Linked DNA regions of Homo sapiens. The protein of the gene in region 3 purifies or fractionates together with the protein of the main gene of each other region. This does not show direct contact. Each region holds a gene or a part of one and is shown on either strand. Other genes may lie near its edges.

Evidence for each region. The genes of interacting proteins can lie anywhere in the genome.
Region 1: the proteins of HVCN1 (region 3) and UQCC1 purify together in Homo sapiens (affinity purification with mass spectrometry; one large-scale study listed by BioGRID and IntAct). This does not show direct contact.
Region 2: the proteins of HVCN1 (region 3) and KIF5C purify together in Homo sapiens (affinity purification with mass spectrometry; one large-scale study listed by BioGRID and IntAct). This does not show direct contact.
Region 4: the proteins of HVCN1 (region 3) and ASAH1 purify together in Homo sapiens (affinity purification with mass spectrometry; one large-scale study listed by BioGRID and IntAct). This does not show direct contact.

The regions. Positions count from the first base shown.
Region 1 is NC_000020.11:35,307,140-35,311,423, reverse strand, and holds part of UQCC1 (ubiquinol-cytochrome c reductase complex assembly factor 1), read left to right. Parts: intron 1-4,284. UniProt on the Homo sapiens protein: Required for the assembly of the ubiquinol-cytochrome c reductase complex (mitochondrial respiratory chain complex III or cytochrome b-c1 complex). Involved in cytochrome b translation and/or stability.
Region 2 is NC_000002.12:148,877,777-148,882,060, reverse strand, and holds part of KIF5C (kinesin heavy chain), read right to left. Parts: intron 1-4,284. UniProt on the Homo sapiens protein: Microtubule-associated force-producing protein that may play a role in organelle transport. Has ATPase activity. Involved in synaptic transmission. Mediates dendritic trafficking of mRNAs.
Region 3 is NC_000012.12:110,650,223-110,655,717, reverse strand, and holds part of HVCN1 (voltage-gated hydrogen channel 1), read left to right. Parts: intron 1-379; coding exon 380-484; intron 485-4,269; coding exon 4,270-4,501; intron 4,502-5,437; coding exon 5,438-5,495.
Region 4 is NC_000008.11:18,059,774-18,064,057, forward strand, and holds part of ASAH1 (acid ceramidase isoform a preproprotein), read right to left. Parts: intron 3,458-4,284; coding exon 3,412-3,457; intron 2,651-3,411; coding exon 2,506-2,650; intron 1,968-2,505; coding exon 1,913-1,967; intron 1,686-1,912; coding exon 1,604-1,685; intron 1-1,603. UniProt on the Homo sapiens protein: Lysosomal ceramidase that hydrolyzes sphingolipid ceramides into sphingosine and free fatty acids at acidic pH.

The sequences.
Region 1 (4,284 bases), on a different chromosome or scaffold from region 3:
GGACAGTGCAGATACAGAACAGTTCCATAGTCACAAAAAGTTCTATTGGACAGCGCTGTTCTACAGCAACCTTTTCCTAGAATCTTGCTTGGATTGTTCCCCCTCCCTGGACGCTTTGGGAACCTCCCTGTTTTCTGTGACATTAGGTCCAAATTGCTCCCTGAACTTCCAGGCCTTCTGTGAACTGTTGCCATTGCTATGTGCCCTATCTGCCTTTATATTTCTTGTGCTCTCTCTTAGGCCGTTTGCCTTACTGCCCTATAGACATGCTGTGCCTGACTGAGACTCTACCTAACAATGAGGGGTTGAGGGCAGTAGCTGAGTCTTGGTCAGCTTTAGGGTCTGGTTCAGGGCCTGGTGTACCTTGTAGGCACTCCCTCTGTAAATATTTTGAATATTTTCTCTTGCTTAGAATAATCTGCAGCTGGCCAGGCACAGTGGCTCACGCCTGTAATCCCAGCACTTTGGGAGGCCGAGGTGGATAGATCACGAGGCCAAGAGTTCGAGACCAGCCTGACCAACATGGTGAAACCCCGTCTCTACTGAAAAAAAAAAAAAAAAAAATTAGCCCGGCATGGTGGTGGGCGCCTGTAGTCCCAGCTACTCGGGAGGCTGAGGCAGGAGAATGGCATGAACCCAGGAGGTGGAGCTTGCAGTGAGCTGAGATCACGCTACTGCACTCCAGCCTGGGTGACAGAGCGAGACTCCATCTCAAAAAAAAAAAAAAAAATCTGCAGCTTTCCAAATCTTCCCAATTTTTTTTTTTTTTTTTTTTTTTTGAGACAGAGTCTCACTCTGTTGCCAGGCTGGAGTGCAGTGGCACAATCTCAGCTTACTGCAACCTCCACCTCCCGGGTTTAAGGGATTCTCCTGCCTCAGCCTCCTGAGTAGCTGGGACTAGAGGCAGGCGCCACCATGCTTGACTAATTTTTTTTGTATTTTTCGTAGAGACAGGGTTTCACCACGTTGCCCAGGATGGTCTCGATCTCTTGACCTCGTGATCCACCCACCTCGGCCTCCCAAAGTGCTGGGATTACAGGCGTGAGCCACCACACCCGCTAAATCCTCCCAATTCTTAAAGGCCTACTTCTTCAGAAAGGTTTCCCTGACCTCTCTGGATCGCTTGTGTTTTTACTGTGAATTTCCACACCCATCCATCTATTCATTATCCATTTAACAGGTAGCTTTTGAGTGTCTACCATGTGTGATACATGGGAATATATTGGTGAATAAAACAAACACGGTCTGGCTCTTTCCCACTAGAGCTTACCTTCTAATTGAGAGACATAGTAAACAAGTAGCAGATAAGCAGTAAATATCTAACTACAGTAGAGTGCAGTGAGAGAGAACAACAGGGGGAATGACTTGATGTGGACCAGGAAGATCTCTCTGAGGAGTTGTCATAAAAGCTAAGACTGTAGAACAAGGAGGCAGCCATGTAGAGTGTAGCTGAGTCTCACTGTGCAGCTTGGCATGTGTTCATTCTCCGGGATTTTACTCTGTGCTGCTGTTAGATGTGCACTGATTTTGTCCCTTCAGCTAGATTGCAAGTTCCCTGAGAGCTCAGACCATATTGCTGTGACTCTTGTGTTCCTAGCATCATGCTGAGCACATAGTGATGTCAAATCAATCTTCACTGAGTGGAACTCTGCCACTTTAAACCCTTAATCAGAACTAGAACCCTCCAAAGCTGAAACAATCCCCTTGGCTTCCTCTCAGTTACTCTAGACCTAGGTGTCTTAATTTCTGAAGGATGCTTCATTGTGTCACGAGGGAAAACAAGTAGGCACCCGATTAGATTGGGGGGAAATTATGCTGTGCCCTCATGTTTGGTTCCCAGGACCCTTCTTCCAGTTCTGCTTTCTTAGTTTGAAATGTGCACCCTCAGATTAGTCTCTCATTTGTTTTCACTGCCTTACACTAGCAGTGTGGTGGGAAGAAGGCTGAAGTTGTGTTCGTTGATTTATTCAGCTATTCTTTTTTTTTTTCCTAAGACAGGGTCTCACTCTGTTGCCCAGGCTGGAGTGCAGCAGTGTGATCACAGCTCACTGTATCCTCAACCTCCCCAGGCCCAGGTGATCATCCCACCTCATCCTCCCGAGTAGCTGGGACTACACTTGTGTGCCACCATGCCTGGCTAATTTTTATATTTTTTTGTGGAAACAGTTTCGCCATGTTGTCCAGGCTGGTCTTGAACTCCTGGGCTCAAGTGATCCACCCAGCTTGGACTCCCAAAGTGCTGGGTATTCAGCCATTCTGATTGCTCTCCCACTCTATGCCAGGTTCTGTATTCTGACTAGAGTGGGTCAGTCATCATCCCCCACCTCATCAATGCATGCTGGTTCTAGTTCAGCCATCAGTTAGCTAGCCTCTAAGCCTCAGTTTACTTATCTTTCAAATGGGGATATAGGCCAGGTGCGGTGGCTCACGCCTGTAATCCCAGCACTTGGGAGGCCGAAGCAGGCAGATCACTTGAGGTCAGGAGTTCGAGACCACCCTGGCCAACATGGTGAAACCCTGTCTCTACTAAAAATACAAAAAATTAGCCGGGTGTGATGGCACATGCCCGTAGTCCCAGCTACTTGGGAGGCTGAGGCAAGAGAATCACTTGAACTTGGGAGGCAGAGGTTGCATTGAGCCAAGATCATGCCACTGCACTTCAGCCTGGGTGACAGAGTGAGACTTCATCTCAAAACAAAACAAAACAAAGCAAAGCAAATGGGAATATAATATCTATTCTACTTGGCAAACATAATCATTAGGAGCTAGGCGTGTGAGGGAACCCTAACAGTCTGAAACAGTTGGGTTGTTCTCACTATTAGTGGGTCCTGAGTCATCCTTTTCCTTCTGATGGCTCAGGAATTCCTGATTATGAATTTGCCCCTTCCCAGCCATCTCACCCGCTGCTAAAGTTGCCTGTTTTCCCATCCTGGGCTCTGCCCATTCTCCAGGTCCCCATAACACGCGCTCCCAATCCCATTCCTTTCTGCACAGCACATGTGGGTTGCTGCCAGCAGCGCTCTGGCATGTGCCCAGGCACAGCAGACACAGGCACGCTGTTGTGCTAGCAAATCGTTTGCAGAAGGGTGATGTGCCTGAGCTTGTCCTCTGCTCCTGTCCCCATGTGCCAGAAAAAGCCAGTTTTCCTGACTCAGCCATTGTGCCAGGACAGTCCTAAGCTGTGGAACCGTAAGGAGGGTTTATCAGAGAGCATTTGGAACAGGTGGAATGTTTTTCTACCAAACTGTCAGCACCCCATACTGGACATGGCCCTTGTTGGCAGCAGGCCTGGAGCCAGACCTCACATACCACAATGCCCAAGAGGACAGACCACAATAAAATGTCGAATAAAGTGATCCTGGGTCTTTGGGTAATGTTTACCACTTACAGAGCCATTCATGGCCAGTATCTCTTAATTCTCACAGCAACTCTGTGGGATAGGTATTATTAGGCTTGTTTGACTCATGAAAAACTGAGGCTCAGGAATGGCTAATAGCTTCTTAAAGGCCGCATGGCCATCAAGTGACACAGCTGGCATTCGAACTCTGTGCTCTGGCTCCCAGACCCCACGGTTTTGACTGTATCCCCGCTGTCTGCCAAAGCATGCTCCTAATCTTTGTATCCAACAGATTACACTTAACAAATAGTTCAAGAATGCTATAAGTAGAGCAGGTAACTTCATCTGTTTTGAAGAAGTAGAAGATTGAGACTTTGGTTTAGTCAGCTGCCACCATCACTGATCTTGGCAGAGGTGGAATTAGGACTTGATCTCCCTTCTAACTCCAAGTCAGCACATCGATTCCACACACTACCTTGGCACCTGGACAGAGCAACTTCTCAGGGCCTGTTCCATCAGCCACCTTCACCCCAGGAAGCAAGACTCTCAGCCCTCCCTCCTCTAGAGGTCCAAGCTAGAAAATGTCCTTAGCTGGTGGCTGGGGCTCTTATTTTGCTCTGTAATCTTTAAGCTTCCCAACAGAAGTCTCCTCTGCCAAAAGAGGCAGCGTTAGGCACACACACACATGCAAGCTCTGAGCCTGGCCCTCTGTGGCCCCAGCAATCCTGCTGAACATCCTGTTCCCCTACTTAGGGAGAGGCTGGGCCCAGAGTTGGGTAAGAGTGAAGACAAGGTAGCTGGCTCCCTTCCCCCAAGGACCAGTTGCCTTGCCTTGGTCCTTGGACCAAGCAAGAAGGCACAGTCCATGCCCACCTCCATTCCTGGGAGAAACATACATTCACAATATTCCCAGCCCGTGCCCTGTGGACAGCAGGGGGAGCATTGCT
Region 2 (4,284 bases), on a different chromosome or scaffold from region 3:
AGAGGAACTTGGTTGACGTGCAGCAAATGGGTTATGGGGAGAGCTTTCTCAGCCACAAAATTAGAACTTTATGAAAAAAAACCTGGAAGAAAGTAAGGTGAGACTGGATCTGTCAAGGGGCTTTATTTTTTTGAACTCAAGAGAAACCATTAGGGAGTAGGCAATTTGTTTTTGCTTTTTTTTACATAAGTAGACACAGGTGGGAAACTGTTTAGACGGGCTCACATCACCCCATAAACAAATAGGTTTGGTCCTAGCCTTTCTATTAGCTCTTAGTAAGATTACACATGCAAGCATCCCCATTCCAGTGAGTTCACCCTCTAAATCACCACGATGATTTAGAGGTAAGGACTAAAGGGAAATCAAAGGTAGGGGGAGGTTTCCAACTGTGAATGGGAAGAAGAGCTGAGAATGGAAAACATCATTAAATAGGGGAGTCGGGCCAGACAAGCACAGGTGAGGCAGAGGGAAGTCTCCAGTGATACCCAAGTTATTTACAGAAATGCAGAAATTGGCATTTATGGAGTCGTGATTTCAGGCAGGGAAAGGGGGAAAAAAAACCTTCAGTCAAGATACATTTACTAAGCAATTACACAACTACAGTAAAGGAGACAAAAATTTAATTAAAAAAAGAAAAAGAAAAAGCTACATGGGAAGATATACACACGCACACGCACACACAAACATGCATGATCACAAAGGAACAGCTAACGTAGTCTAGAGCTAAATGAAATATGAGTTTTGCCTTCAAGGATAGTTAGAAATACCAGAAATAGATGAAAACAGTGGGTATTCCAACCAGGAGAATGGGGTGAACAAATGCCTAAGAAATGGTAATGCAAGAAGGGTTTTCAGGGGATAGCCAGAAGGGGCACTAATTTGTGGGGCCAAAGCTAATGTTGACATGAGGAAGGTCACCAAGGGAACAGGAGACATAGGAGGTAATCAGCGCCTATTGAGCATTTTCTCTGTGCCAGACACTCTCTCACCACTTCATTTCATTTCATCCAAATGACCCTGTGAGGTAAGTAATTATTATCTGCACTTTCAATACAAGAAAACTCATGCCCAGGAAAGCTCAGCAACTTGAAAAAAAAAAAAAAAAACTAGGTTTTTTTTTAGCTAGTGAATCTACACTCGGTTTTGTCTCACCCTTCCTGCTACCTCTACCCACCCCATTCACTGACTGTGTGCCTACTGTGAATAGTGAGTGGCCTCAGTGACACACGCCAGATTACAGCTCTCTATGATGTTCCCTCAGTCCATGATTTCACAGGGTACATGTGAAGGAAACCACTAACCCATTTCAGGTGATATAAACATCTCTGAATTTAGGGCACAGAGGAATGAAGAACTGATACATCCTGACACTACTAGACTAGAATGCACTTAGACAAAGTGACTAAATAAACTTACTTTGGTTTAAAATGTTACTGCTTTTAGATGGAAATGCAAATTGGTACAACCACTTTAGAAAACAGTTTGGCAGTTTCTTACAGAGTTAACCGTATGGTTACTTTACAACCCAGCAATCCCATTCCTGGATATTTACCCAAGAGAAATAAAAATGTATACTCACACAGAACCTATATGCAAAGGTTTATAGCAGCTTTATTCATAATCATACCAAACTGGAAACAAGCCGAGCATGGTGGCTCATGCCTATAATCCCAGCACTTTGGGAGGCCAAGGCAGGTGGATCACCTGAAGTCAGGAGTTCAAGACCAGCCTGGCCAACATGGTGAAACCCCATCTCTACTAAAAATACAAAAATTAGCTGAATGTGGTGGCACACGCCTGTAGTCCCAGCTACCTGGGAGGCTGAGGCAGGAGAATTGCTTGAACCCAGGAGGCAGAGGTTGCGATAAGCCAGGGTCACACCACTGCACTCCAGCCTGGGTGACAGAGCAAGACTCAGTCTCAAAGAAAAAAAAAAAAGTGGTATTACTGCGTGTAAATTTGAAAAAATTGTTTTAATGTTATTGCTTTGGAAGACCATTACTGTGGAAAGAAGAAAAGTTTTAAGGTGTAGCTGTATTTCTTCACTTAATCTCTAAAATCCTAACTCAGGCGCGGATTTGGTCTCCAGGCCCCTTCCCCATCCATCTACTGCCAAGAAATAATCTAAGCTTCTGAAGACTGGGGCCACTTTCCAGCTTAGGGTTTGTGGCTGATGTTTTGCTCTGGCTCTTAGGCCCTCAGGAGGAAGCACTCATCTTTAACAAGACCTGCTTTCTCAGGACTGCAAACAAGAGAAAAGCCCAATAAGAGGAAAGTGAAGTGTGAAAATCCATTTCAAAGAACTTTACTGAGAACTCACCATGTCAGAGAGCTTCCATTAATACAGTTGCTTCAAAACCAATAGGCAGAACCCAAAGTAATGGATGACTCACCAGGACTTTTAGCAGCTAATGGAGTACTCTGAGAAATGCTGTAAATCCAATATTTTTGCTGAAAAATTAATGTGTTATGGGAGGGAGCCTCTTTTCTAATCACTTACCCACCCCCACCCTCTACTTCTAGTTCACCATCAGCATCTTTAGCTCTTCTAATTTTTGCCAAAGCTGAATGCAGTTCTTTCCCAATTTTCTTATATCATTTTAAGTATTATATATGCTATCTTACCAGGCCCACTCAGAGAAACAGCACTTATCTTTAAAATTATTTTTTAACTACTCCCCACAGCCTACGGCCAATAAAAACTCTGTAAACTATGTTAAATATACCAAAGTAAAGTTTCCAGAATTCACAGAGAGATCGATAAATATTTACTAAGTGCCTTCTACAGACAAAGCCCTGGGAAGTATAAAGGAGCAAAACATGCACAGTTCTTGTCTCTAAACATGGCTTACAATGTCATTAGGCATATGACCAAAGCTAATAATAATCCAAGGCAAAAAACTTGGGAGATCATATACAAAACAAATGCTATAGGAGTTCAAAGTGGGGAAAGACTGTGGCTGGTGTGGTCAGAGAAAGACAGCTTTGCACAAAGCTGAAAAACTGCAGGAGTGATGGAGAACATTTCTCCCAAACAGGACATTTTCATAAAAGAGAAATCTAGAAACTCCACCTGTAAAATCTCTTTCTTGGAATATATCTCCATAACAAACAGAACTTTAAGGGAAAAAATGACCCCAGTTTCAAAAACACAAAGAATTTCTGGGATTCTGAATTTGGACTAACAGATAACTCCACCAAAATTCATTCTTTACTTGTCTCTGTTTGAAGGTGACATATTTCTGGATGATCTGGGCTTCTTTGGTCATCCACAGTCTGTGCCCCTAGAACTAAGGAAGGTTGTGTACATCTCAGACAGTTTTCACTTGCAACTGAGCCATGTCAGCCGGCTCCAACTGAATTGACTTGGGACCATTCTACTCATTGCATATGGCATGATACAGACTGCCAGAACCCTCATTTCCTTTAGTGCCACATTATCAATTAGGAATGGGAAGGATCCTGGCACATGCCAACCCAACTCCCAAACCCTTCAGTATCTGGCAGTCTTCTATTCTGTACATGCACTCACCAAAATATACATAAACGAATGTTCATAGCAGCACTAGCCATATTAGCCCCAAACCGGAAACTATCCAAATATCCATCAACAGTCAGTAGACAAATTGTAGTATATTCATATCATGGAATACTACAAAACAATGAGGATGAATTTGACAAGCATAACACTTAATCCCAAGAAACCACACACAAAAGAGAACATACTCTATGGTTTTATGTAATATAAAGTTAAAAAGAAACAAGCAAAACTAATAGCATCAGAAGTGAGAATCATGGTTACCCTGAAGCAGGGGGATTTAGGGACTGGAAGGGCCACAAGGGGGATTTCTAGGGTCCCAAAATGTCTGTTTCTTAGTCTGTGAGGTGGTTACAGGGAGCATTTACTTTATGAAAAGTCATCCAACTGTATACTTATGATAACAGTTTTCTATATGAATGCTTCATTTCAATAAAAAGTTTACCTTAGAAAAACTGAAAACTGTTGTATTAAAGGATTATAGTAGGATGAGCAAAACTTACTTTACGGTTGAAAAGCAATGTGTATATTCACATCTATGATTTTTATTTAAACTTCTTATTTAATATGGTGACTTGGTTTTAATTTGTTTAGCCACTAATATATGTTTATTTAGATAAGGAAATATATACTCATAGCAATGTCATATTAAAGAAGGATAATTCTAAAATTAAGGAGCTCTGCCTTGCATACAGGTCAAGGAAGATGATTTATTACTTCATTTCATTGGTTCTGGAAGAAGAAGA
Region 3 (5,495 bases):
AAAAAAAAAAAACTGATTATTTGTTGCCATCTAGGTATGGGCAGTTTGGTTTGAGAGGTGGTATTTGGGAAACAGTGACCAAAGGTCAGAAAATGAGCCAGAGATGTTCTGGGAGGGCAGGGAAGGTGGGCAGCGCCTAGAGGCAGAGCAGGCCAGGAGGGTGGCGGGAAGGAGGCTGGCAGCTTCTATCAGAGAGGAGCTGGCCCTGCACAGCCTCCATCCTGGTGGGGCCTCTGGCGAGCTATAGCAGTAGCCTCCCATCCTTAATGGCTTTGCCCAGTGGTTTCACCCACGTGCTTCCAAGCCAGCTCTTAATGATGGGAGAGGGAGGGCCTCTGTGGGGGTCTCATGATCTCTGGCACCTTCCCTCGGCCCACAGGTCATCATCATCTGCTTGGTGGTTCTGGATGCCCTCCTGGTGCTTGCTGAGCTCATCCTGGACCTGAAGATCATCCAGCCCGACAAGAATAACTATGCTGCCATGGTAGGGGTTGACAGCTCTTCTGGGGTCTTACTGATATGTTTTGCTTGTGTTATCTGCACAGACGGGGTGCAGAGTGGAGCAGCTGACACCCCACTTGGAGTAGCAAGGTCTGTGGTAGTTTGATAGGTGTTTTCGTCTTCCTTTCCAGAATATGGATTAGCATTTACTACAAGCAGGAAACGTTGTTTCACATGATGGCTGGAATCCTGGGCGATGCTAGGCTAGTGAGCTGGAGCATGTGGGGTGGATCCACTCTGCCATCTCTGGGTCAGGAGGGGCATTCCTCCTGTCTTCTGTTGATGGTCTGCATGGTCCCCTTGCTGGGCCATCAGGGGATCTGCTGTTTATTCACTGATTCAGTTACTGAGCCCATCCCAGATGTTCACCCAAAGGGTGGTGGACATACCCTGTCTCAGTTCCAAGGGCGGAGATCAAGAGAGTTAAAATCATCCCTGGTTGGGCATGGTGGCTCACACCTTTAGTCTCTGCACTTTGGGAGGACAAGGCGGGTGGATCACCTGAGGTCAGGAGTTCGAGACCAGCCTGGCCAACATAATGAAACCAAATCTCTACTAAAAGTACAAAAAAGTAGCTGGGCGTGGTGGCATGCGCCTGTAATCCCAGCTACTCAGGAGGCTGAGGCAGGAGAATCGCTTGAACCCCAGAGGCGGAGGCTGCAGTGAGCCGAGATAGCGCCACTGCACTCCAGCCCGGGCAACAAGAGCAAAACTCCGTCTCCAGGAAAAAAAAAAAAAAAAAAAAGCATTTCCCCCCCATCCCCCGCCATGCCCTTTTTTGGAAAAACAAAATGGAATTGATATGCAAATGTATGTCTTTGCAAGTGGTGAAAACGGCAGAATATGAAACTTCCTCCTTCTTCCTGATACCTTTCCCAGAGGCAGCCCTGTGACATCTCCTATGCCAGCATAGGAGGAGAATCTTCCCTGTCCATCTGTTTTCTCCTAAATAATTGTTTTCATGTTTCTCAGAGACTGGGTCTTGAACCCCAGGGCTCAAGTGATCCACCCACCTCTGCCTCCCAAAGTGCTGGGATTACAGGCGTGCGACACTGCACTTGGCTCTCTTCCTCTATTTTTAATAGAATCCATTAACATACCTGCCATACTTATTGTCTTTTTTTCTCTCAACTTTTTATGAAAAATGGCAAAGACACATTTTGCTGTGTTTGCTTTGTCACTATACATCCCCACGGACGCACACACGCTTCCGTCTGGCCATTTGACTTCACAACCCTTCACTCCTAAATACTTCAACGTGCCTAATAAGGTTTTTCTCCCATGGAGCCATAAGAGCACCATCAGATCTAAAATAAGATCAATAGTCCCACCTAACAACCACTTTTATTCACTCATCCCAAATGTCTCTCTTTATTTTTTTGAGACAGTCTCTATCGCCCAGGCTGGAGTGCAGTGGCACTATCTCATCTCACTGCAACGTCCGCCTCCTGAGTTCAAGCGATTCTCCTGCCTCCAGCTCCAGAGTAACTGGGATTACAGGTGCCCGCCACCACACCCAGCTAATTTTTTTATTTTTAGTAGAGATGAGATTTCACCATGTTGGCCAGGCTGGTATCGAACTCCTGACCTCAAGTGATCTGCCCACTTCGGCCTCCCAAAGTGCTGGGATTACAGGCAAGAGCCACCGTGTCCAGCCCAAGAATGTCTTTAATGGCAGTTTTTTTCAAACTAGGATAGAGAATTCCAATATTCTATTTGGTTATGTCTCCTTGGAATTTTTAATTTTTTTTTTTACTTGAGACAGAGTCTTGCCCTGTCACCCAGGCTGGAGTGCAGGAGCACTTAACAGCTCACTGTAGTCTTGATCTCATGGGCTCAAGCCTTCCTCCCGCCTCAGCCTCCTGAGTAGCTAGAACCACAGACATGCACCACCACACCCAGCTAATTTTTAAATTTTTTGTAGAGACAGGGTTTCCTTGTGTTGCCCAGGCTGGTCTTGAACTCCCAGGCTCAAACAATCCTCCTGTCTTGGCCTCCCAAAGTGCTGGGATTACAGGTGTGAGCCACTGCACCCGGCCTCCCTGGGCTTTCTTAATCTAGAGAAATCCTCCTGCTTTTCTTTTTCCTTCATGACAATGACTCTTGGAAGAGCCCAGCCAGTAGAATGTCCCATGTTCTGGATTTGTCTGATGATTTTGAGGTCTCCTGCCTTGTTTCTTCATTTCCTGCACACCACGGTTAGGTCCAGGGCTTGATCAGCAGGGAGTCTTCATTGGCTGGCGATGTTCTGGATGTGGCATTTTCAGGAGGCACACCACGCCAGGGGTCCCACTCAGTTGGGTCACTTGCTGGACTGCTCCACTGGCCAGGGGCATTTTTCCCGTTGCAGTGGTAAATGATCTGCCTGGTACTGCTTTGGTAGCATGCAAATATCCTCTTCCCCAGTTGGCATCTGTTGGTGAAACTTGCCTGAGTCAGTGACTACACTAGGGAATGCAAAATGGTGATTTTCTGTCTTTCCTTCTACATTTAGTAGTAGGTACTCTTCTATAAAAAAGCACTTCCCTGTTTTCCCATGTGTGTATGTATGTGTGCATGGGTGTATGTGCCGCACTGTGAATTTTTTTATTCACTGTGTTACAATCAATCTTAGTCATTCTTTTCAATGTTCAGATTGTCCCAAATGTTGTCACTGTGAGCCTCTTCAAGTTGACTGCTGGGTCCTGTTGACATGACTCTGTGATGTCTTTGAAGACTTCCTTGCTGGCAAAAGACGTCCTTGCCCACATTGTACCTCCCCTGCCTCAGATCTGGAAATGGTTATCTTGGTGTGAGGACTGGTTATTTTATTTTATATTTTTATTTTTTGAGACAGTCTCACTTGTCACCCAGGCTGGAGTGCAGTGGTGCAATCTCGGCTCACTGCAACCTCTCCTCCGTGTTCAAGCAATTCTCCTGCCTCAGCCTCCCAAATAGCTGGGACTACAGGCATGCACCACCATGCCTAACTTTTTGTATTTTTTTAGTACAGACAGGTTTTCACCATGTTGGCCAACGTGGTCTCAAACTCCGGGCCTCAGGTGATCTGCCCGCCTTGGCCTCCCAAAGTGCTGGGATTACAGGCATGAGCCACTGTGCCCAGCCAGGACTAGATCAAGATCTTGGAACCCTTTTCACTTTACACCACCTTGGTGATCACTCCTAATTGGAACATATGGATCTGCCTCCATTCATTCATTCATTCAGTTATTTTAGAGATGGGGTCTTGCTATGTTGCCCAGACTGGCCTCAAACTGGGCTCTTGGCAGGAGGCCCCACCTAGCCTCCTGAGTAACTGGGACTATTGGCTCGAGCCACCACACCCAGCTTAATCTTTTTAACAAGTGTGTCCTTAGGGCCCCATATGGAGGTGTCACCATTCATTTCAAGAGTAACTTCTAATGGACATTTCTGTCTAATGGACATTTCTGTTGTCTTACAATGCAGAAAGTATTTGTTCTGCAAACAGTGCTGCAGTAAATATCCTTAGTCCCTGTGCACACAGGAGCTCAGCTGTAGGGTAAGTTCTTAGCCATGGAATTGCTGGTCCAAAGGGTCTAGAGGATGCTTTAATTCTGACATTGCCTAATTGCCCTTTAGAGAGCAGGTGCCTCATCTGTGGTGTTCACAGCTGTGTTTCCAGCACTGGGCATCTGGATTTGTCCACCAGAGGAATTCTCTTGCTGGTGACCAGGCAGGTGCATGTGAGGGCAGCTTGACCTCCCAGAGGCCCAATCTCCCCTGACTGTGGTTCCTTGTCCCCTTCAGGTATTCCACTACATGAGCATCACCATCTTGGTCTTTTTTATGATGGAGATCATCTTTAAATTATTTGTCTTCCGCCTGGAGTTCTTTCACCACAAGTTTGAGATCCTGGATGCCGTCGTGGTGGTGGTCTCATTCATCCTCGACATTGTCCTCCTGTTCCAGGAGCACCAGTTTGAGGCTCTGGGCCTGCTGATTCTGCTCCGGCTGTGGCGGGTGGCCCGGATCATCAATGGTACGTCTCCTGCACTCCCAGGCTGTGGATGGAGAGTAGGGGCCCAGGCATACATCCAAGGCCTGACTGCGCAGTCACTCTGGGTGCCTGAGCTCACAGTGGCTCCTGTTATGGAGGCCTCCCCTCTGCCCCCTCACCTCCCTCTCCTCCCTTCTTCCTCTTCAGCCCTTTAGGAGCTGGTTATAAGCAGGTTTACGTCAAGCAAATAAAATGAAACAGGTTGGGTGCAGTGGTCATGCCTGTAATCCCAGCACTTTGGGAGGCTGAGTCAGGAGGATCACTTGAGCCCAGGAGTTCGAGACCAACCTGGGCAACATGGTGAAACCCCCATCTCTACAAAACAAAAAATACAAACATCAGTTGGGTGTGGTGGTGCACACATGTAGTCCCAGCCACTGGGGAGGCTGAGGTGGGAGGATTGCTTGAGCCCAGGATTTGGAGGCTGCAATAAGCCAAGATTGTGCACTGCACTCTAGCCTGGGTGACAGAGCCAGACCCCATCTCAAAAAAAAAAAAAAAAACTGGACTCTTGTCAAAGGAAAGAAAAAAAAGCCTTTCAGTTCCTACAGAAGATGCCTGTTATGGGGAAAGGGGGCATTTCCCAGCCTGTGCTTTCGTGGCATCTATGGACACCGCTGTTGTGCACCCACATGATTGTGAACAGGTTCTAGGTTAAGAATCCTAATGCTCATCTTGTCAGTGATTATTTTTAAGGATTTCTCAGCCATGCCAGCTAAAGAGAGATACTGTGTAACTGGGTACTAAGTAGCTCAGACACAAAACCCTGACCTCCCAGTTCTGATGCCCTAAAGTGATGACTGTCTCGCGTGTCTGTCACCACTCCTCCAAACTCTATACAGGTGTAAGAATACAGATTTTTTTCCTGAGTGGTTAAGTTAGAAACCAGTATCACTGAGACCCCCAATTTTATTTCAGGGATTATCATCTCAGTTAAGACACGTTCAGAACGGCAACTCTTAAGGTTAAAACAGAT
Region 4 (4,284 bases), on a different chromosome or scaffold from region 3:
AAATTTTACTTTAAGTTCTGGGACACATGTGCTGAACGTGCAGGTTTGTTACATAGGTACACACGTGCCATGGTGGTTTGCTGCACCCATCAACCCATCATCTAAGTTTCAAGCCCTACATGCATTAGGTATTTGTCCTAATGCTCTCCCTCCCCTTTCACCCCACCCCCTGACAGGCCCTGGTGCGTGATGTTCCCCTCCCTGTGTTCACGTGTTCTCTTTGTTCAGCTCTCACTTATGAGTGAGAACATGCAGTGTTCGGTTTTCTGTTCCTGTGTTAGTTTGCTGAGGATGATGGTGGGAAACATTTTTAGATGACTTAGAACGGAAATGTTTAGCTCTGTAGAAACTAAAGAAAAACAAGTATCTAAGGAATGTGTTATTTATTTATTTCTATTTTTAGAGATGGGCTCTCACTCTGTTGCCCAGGCTGGTCTCGAACTCCTTGGCACAAGCGATACTCTTGCCTTCGCCTCCCAAAGTACTGGGATTACAGGCATGAGCCACCATGGCCAGCCACAATGTGTTTTCTAAAAAAGGATGGTGAGCAATGCCTCTGGGAAAAGCAATCCCTGACCCTGTATGGTGAACACTGAGATGGGAAGCGGGAATCTTAGGAAGCCCCTCTAATCTGAAGGAGAAACAAAGTGGCCTCAAGAGATCATCTTCCACCCTTACTGTCCATGCCTTTCACTCAACAACAGAACAAAGGGAAATAATATTACAGTATGTAGGACTTAGAGAACAGAAAGTAAACCTTCTTGAAAATTAGGACTATTAAAAATTGAAGTGGGTTATCAAAGAACACTACTAACATTAAATCTTATTCCCTGGGAAGTATTAAAAATAGGATTGATGCCCATTTATTTGGACGCAGTGCTGGCTGAATGAAGGAAAGGCAGTTTTGCTATTGTAAGATTTCTATACCAAGGCAAGATATAACTTACAGGTTAATATGTAGTACATTTTGTATTTATTTATTTTGTTTTTTTAAGACAGAGTCTCACTCTATCACTCAGGGTGAAGTGCAGTGGACTGATCCCAGCTCACTGCAGTCTCGACCTCCTTGGGCTCAGGTGATCCTCCCACCTCAGCCTCCTGAGTAGCTGGGACTACAGGCAGGCACGTGTCACCATGCCTGGCTAATTTTTGTATTTTTTATAGAGACGGGGTTTCGCCATGTTGCTCAGACTGGTCTCAAACCCCTGGGTGCAAGTCATCTGTCTATCTCAGCCACCCAAAGCGTGAGGATTACAGGCATAAGCCACTGTGCCTGGTCTGTACTACCATTTAAATGAAGATTTTACTGTATGACTGTTCTTTTGTGTGTGGGTCATTTTTTTTCTGTACACCAAAAATATTCATAGGTGCCTTTCATAATGTCAGTATCCCTAGTGCTTTTTAAGTAATTCATTTATTTGCTATAAAACACACAGTCTGCACGAAGAAAACATGAGTAATTCCACATGAGTGTCAGAGGTTCACCTAAGAAATTCTGCAATAGTTCCTCAAAGGATTAAGCTGGAGCTTGACAAATATTTTTATTTTTTAATATGAGTAATTTAAAATAAATATTTAATAGTAAAGCAACGAAACACTTTACCTTGTGCTATTTTCCAGAACTGTTCTAGTGAGGAACCCTATCCACATGACATCTTTCTTTCCCAGAATCCATTCTAGAATACCTGGAAGAGATGAACACAATGTCAGGAACCGGAAGAGGTGACACTATGTAACCAGTCAGGACCCGGAAGAGGCTGGACTATATAACCAGTCAGGAACCAGAAGAGGTTAGACTTTGTAACCAGTCGGGAACCGGAAGAGGTTGGACTTTGTAACCAGAAGGCACAGTCCAGCCTTCCTCATAAAAAAGCTCTGAGATTCCCATTTCACTTGAGAATGCTCTACTTACCCAGATAACCACCATTTATACTGAAACGTTCATTCAGTGTAAGACTGAACAGTCCCTGAGAAAAAGACAAAGCAACGAAGTCAGAAACATCAACCATGCGCTTTAAGGCCCTGTCGCTCACTGTACTTCAGAGTGGGATATAAAGGCCTAGCTTGGGTAATGGGGAAGGCAAAAATAAATCAAAACCATAAAAGGCTTTTTAAAAAGTTCAAAGCATTTTTGATTCTAGTATGTGAGATAAGTAGGTGGGGTATCACTGGCAACGCTTTTTGGACAGGAAACTGAAGGGCAGAGAATGAACGCCTGACTTGCCTAAGTGAGCGGAAGACCCAGGACTAGAAATCAGATTGTGACTCCCAGCCCTTGACACCCAGCCACATGCTCTTTATCCCAGAAGAGGCTCAGAAACCTCCGTTTCCTTTCTACTCTTCTCTACCACGAGATCTCATACCTATGAAGTGACAAGAAGTACAAGGGGGTGAAATGGGGCTTCATATTCCCTTTAGGTCCTCATATTCTTAGATTTCAACTTTTACATAACGGTAACAGGACAGAAGGCTACCTGTATAATTATGTAACAACAGACTCCTTACTGGTTTGAATCCTGTTAACATGCCCACATAGCCAGCAAAGCTTGAAGCCTTGAAGACAGTTTTGTTGTTTCTTTGGAAATCCAAATTCACTGTTAAAGGTTTTAGTTGCTCAGTTATGACCCAGGTATCATTATTTATGTTCCACCTATAAAAGACATGTTTCAGTGACATTTCAGAAACACAGTGATAGTAATGATCAACATGATGATGAGGGCCAGGCATTACACTAGGAGCTTTATTTACCGAGTCACCACGATCAATCCTAACAAGACCTTTACAATATGGTATATTTATTCTGTTTTCCAAATGATAAAATTGAGGTTCAGAGAAGTCAGGTAACTCTCTCAATATCACACAGCTTATAAATAGTGAGCCTCAGATTCAAACATAGAATGCTAATTACAATATTCTTATTTTTTCAGAAAGGTCAAGATGGACACATAAAATAGAAGAGCATGTCCCTCTTGTCTCAGCACTCAAGCAATCCATTTATCTTCACTTATGATCACATTTTGGGTGTGACTTGGGACTTACTTATCATCAATATAACACAACCTACTCTTCCTACAGACCAAAACAGTTCTGTGTTCTTTTTTTTTTTTTTTTTTTTGAGATGGAGTCTGGCTCTGTATCCCAAGCTGCAGTGCAGTGGCGCGATCTCGGCTCACTGCAACCTCCGCCTCGCAGGTTCAAAAAAGTCTCTGCCTCAGGCTCCCAAGTAGCCGGGATTACAGATGCCCACCACCATGCCTGGCTAATTTTTATGTTTTTAGTAGAGACGGGGTTTCACCATCTTGGCCAGGCTGGTCTTGAACTCCTGACCTCGTGATCCACCCGTGTCAGCCTCCCAAAAAGCTGGGATTACAGGCGTGAACCACCATGCCTGACCCTTTGTTCTTTACTTACCCAAGAAATACTCCAAAATCCATGTTTCTCCCATGTATTAGATGACCTATTTGAAGGTAGACAGAAGAGACGTGTAATAGCAGTTAAGATTCTAAATCAAAGCTGGACAATTAATTTTGATTAATTAATTTATTTTTGAGACAGAGTCTCGTTCTGTTGGCCAGACTGGAGTGCAGTGGTGCGATCTCAGCTCACTGCGACCTCTGCCTCCCAGGTTCAAGCAATTCTTGTGCCTCAGCCTTCCACGTAGTTGGGATTACAGACATGTGCGACCGCACCTGGCTACTTTTTTTTTTTTTTTGTATTTTTCTTTTAGTAGAGAAGGGGTTTTACCATGTTGGCCAGTCTGGTGTCAAACTCCCAACCTCAGATGATTCGCCCGCCTCGGCCTCGCAAAGTGCTGGCATTACAGGTGTAAGCCACTGTGCCTGGCCTCTAATTTTGATTAATTTTTATTCACAACTGTTTCTTCAAACAATAAGAAGTAAGAAACATCCTAATATCCTAAGCCTTCACCAGATGGGACTGTTGTCACCGTCTATCTGCCAGATAACCCCACAAAATCTGAGAGCACGGGTTTCCAGGTAAGATCAGAATATGGGAAAAGGAATCAATGGTCATGTTTTGGTTCACTATCACATGGTTCTACCAGGACACAGAAATCGGAGCCTCAATTACTGTGATTCATCAAATGTTTCCCTTCAGGCATCATCCCCTAGAGCAGGACATCTCAAGGGTAAGGTACAGGCAGATTTATACCCAGAGTATAGGTCAAAGATCAGGGTGAGTTAGCGAAGTTGTCCTGTGCTTTGTACTCTGGGAACCAGTCAGGAAAAATACGGGAAAGTGAGGCTGGTATCCATTGGGTTGCCT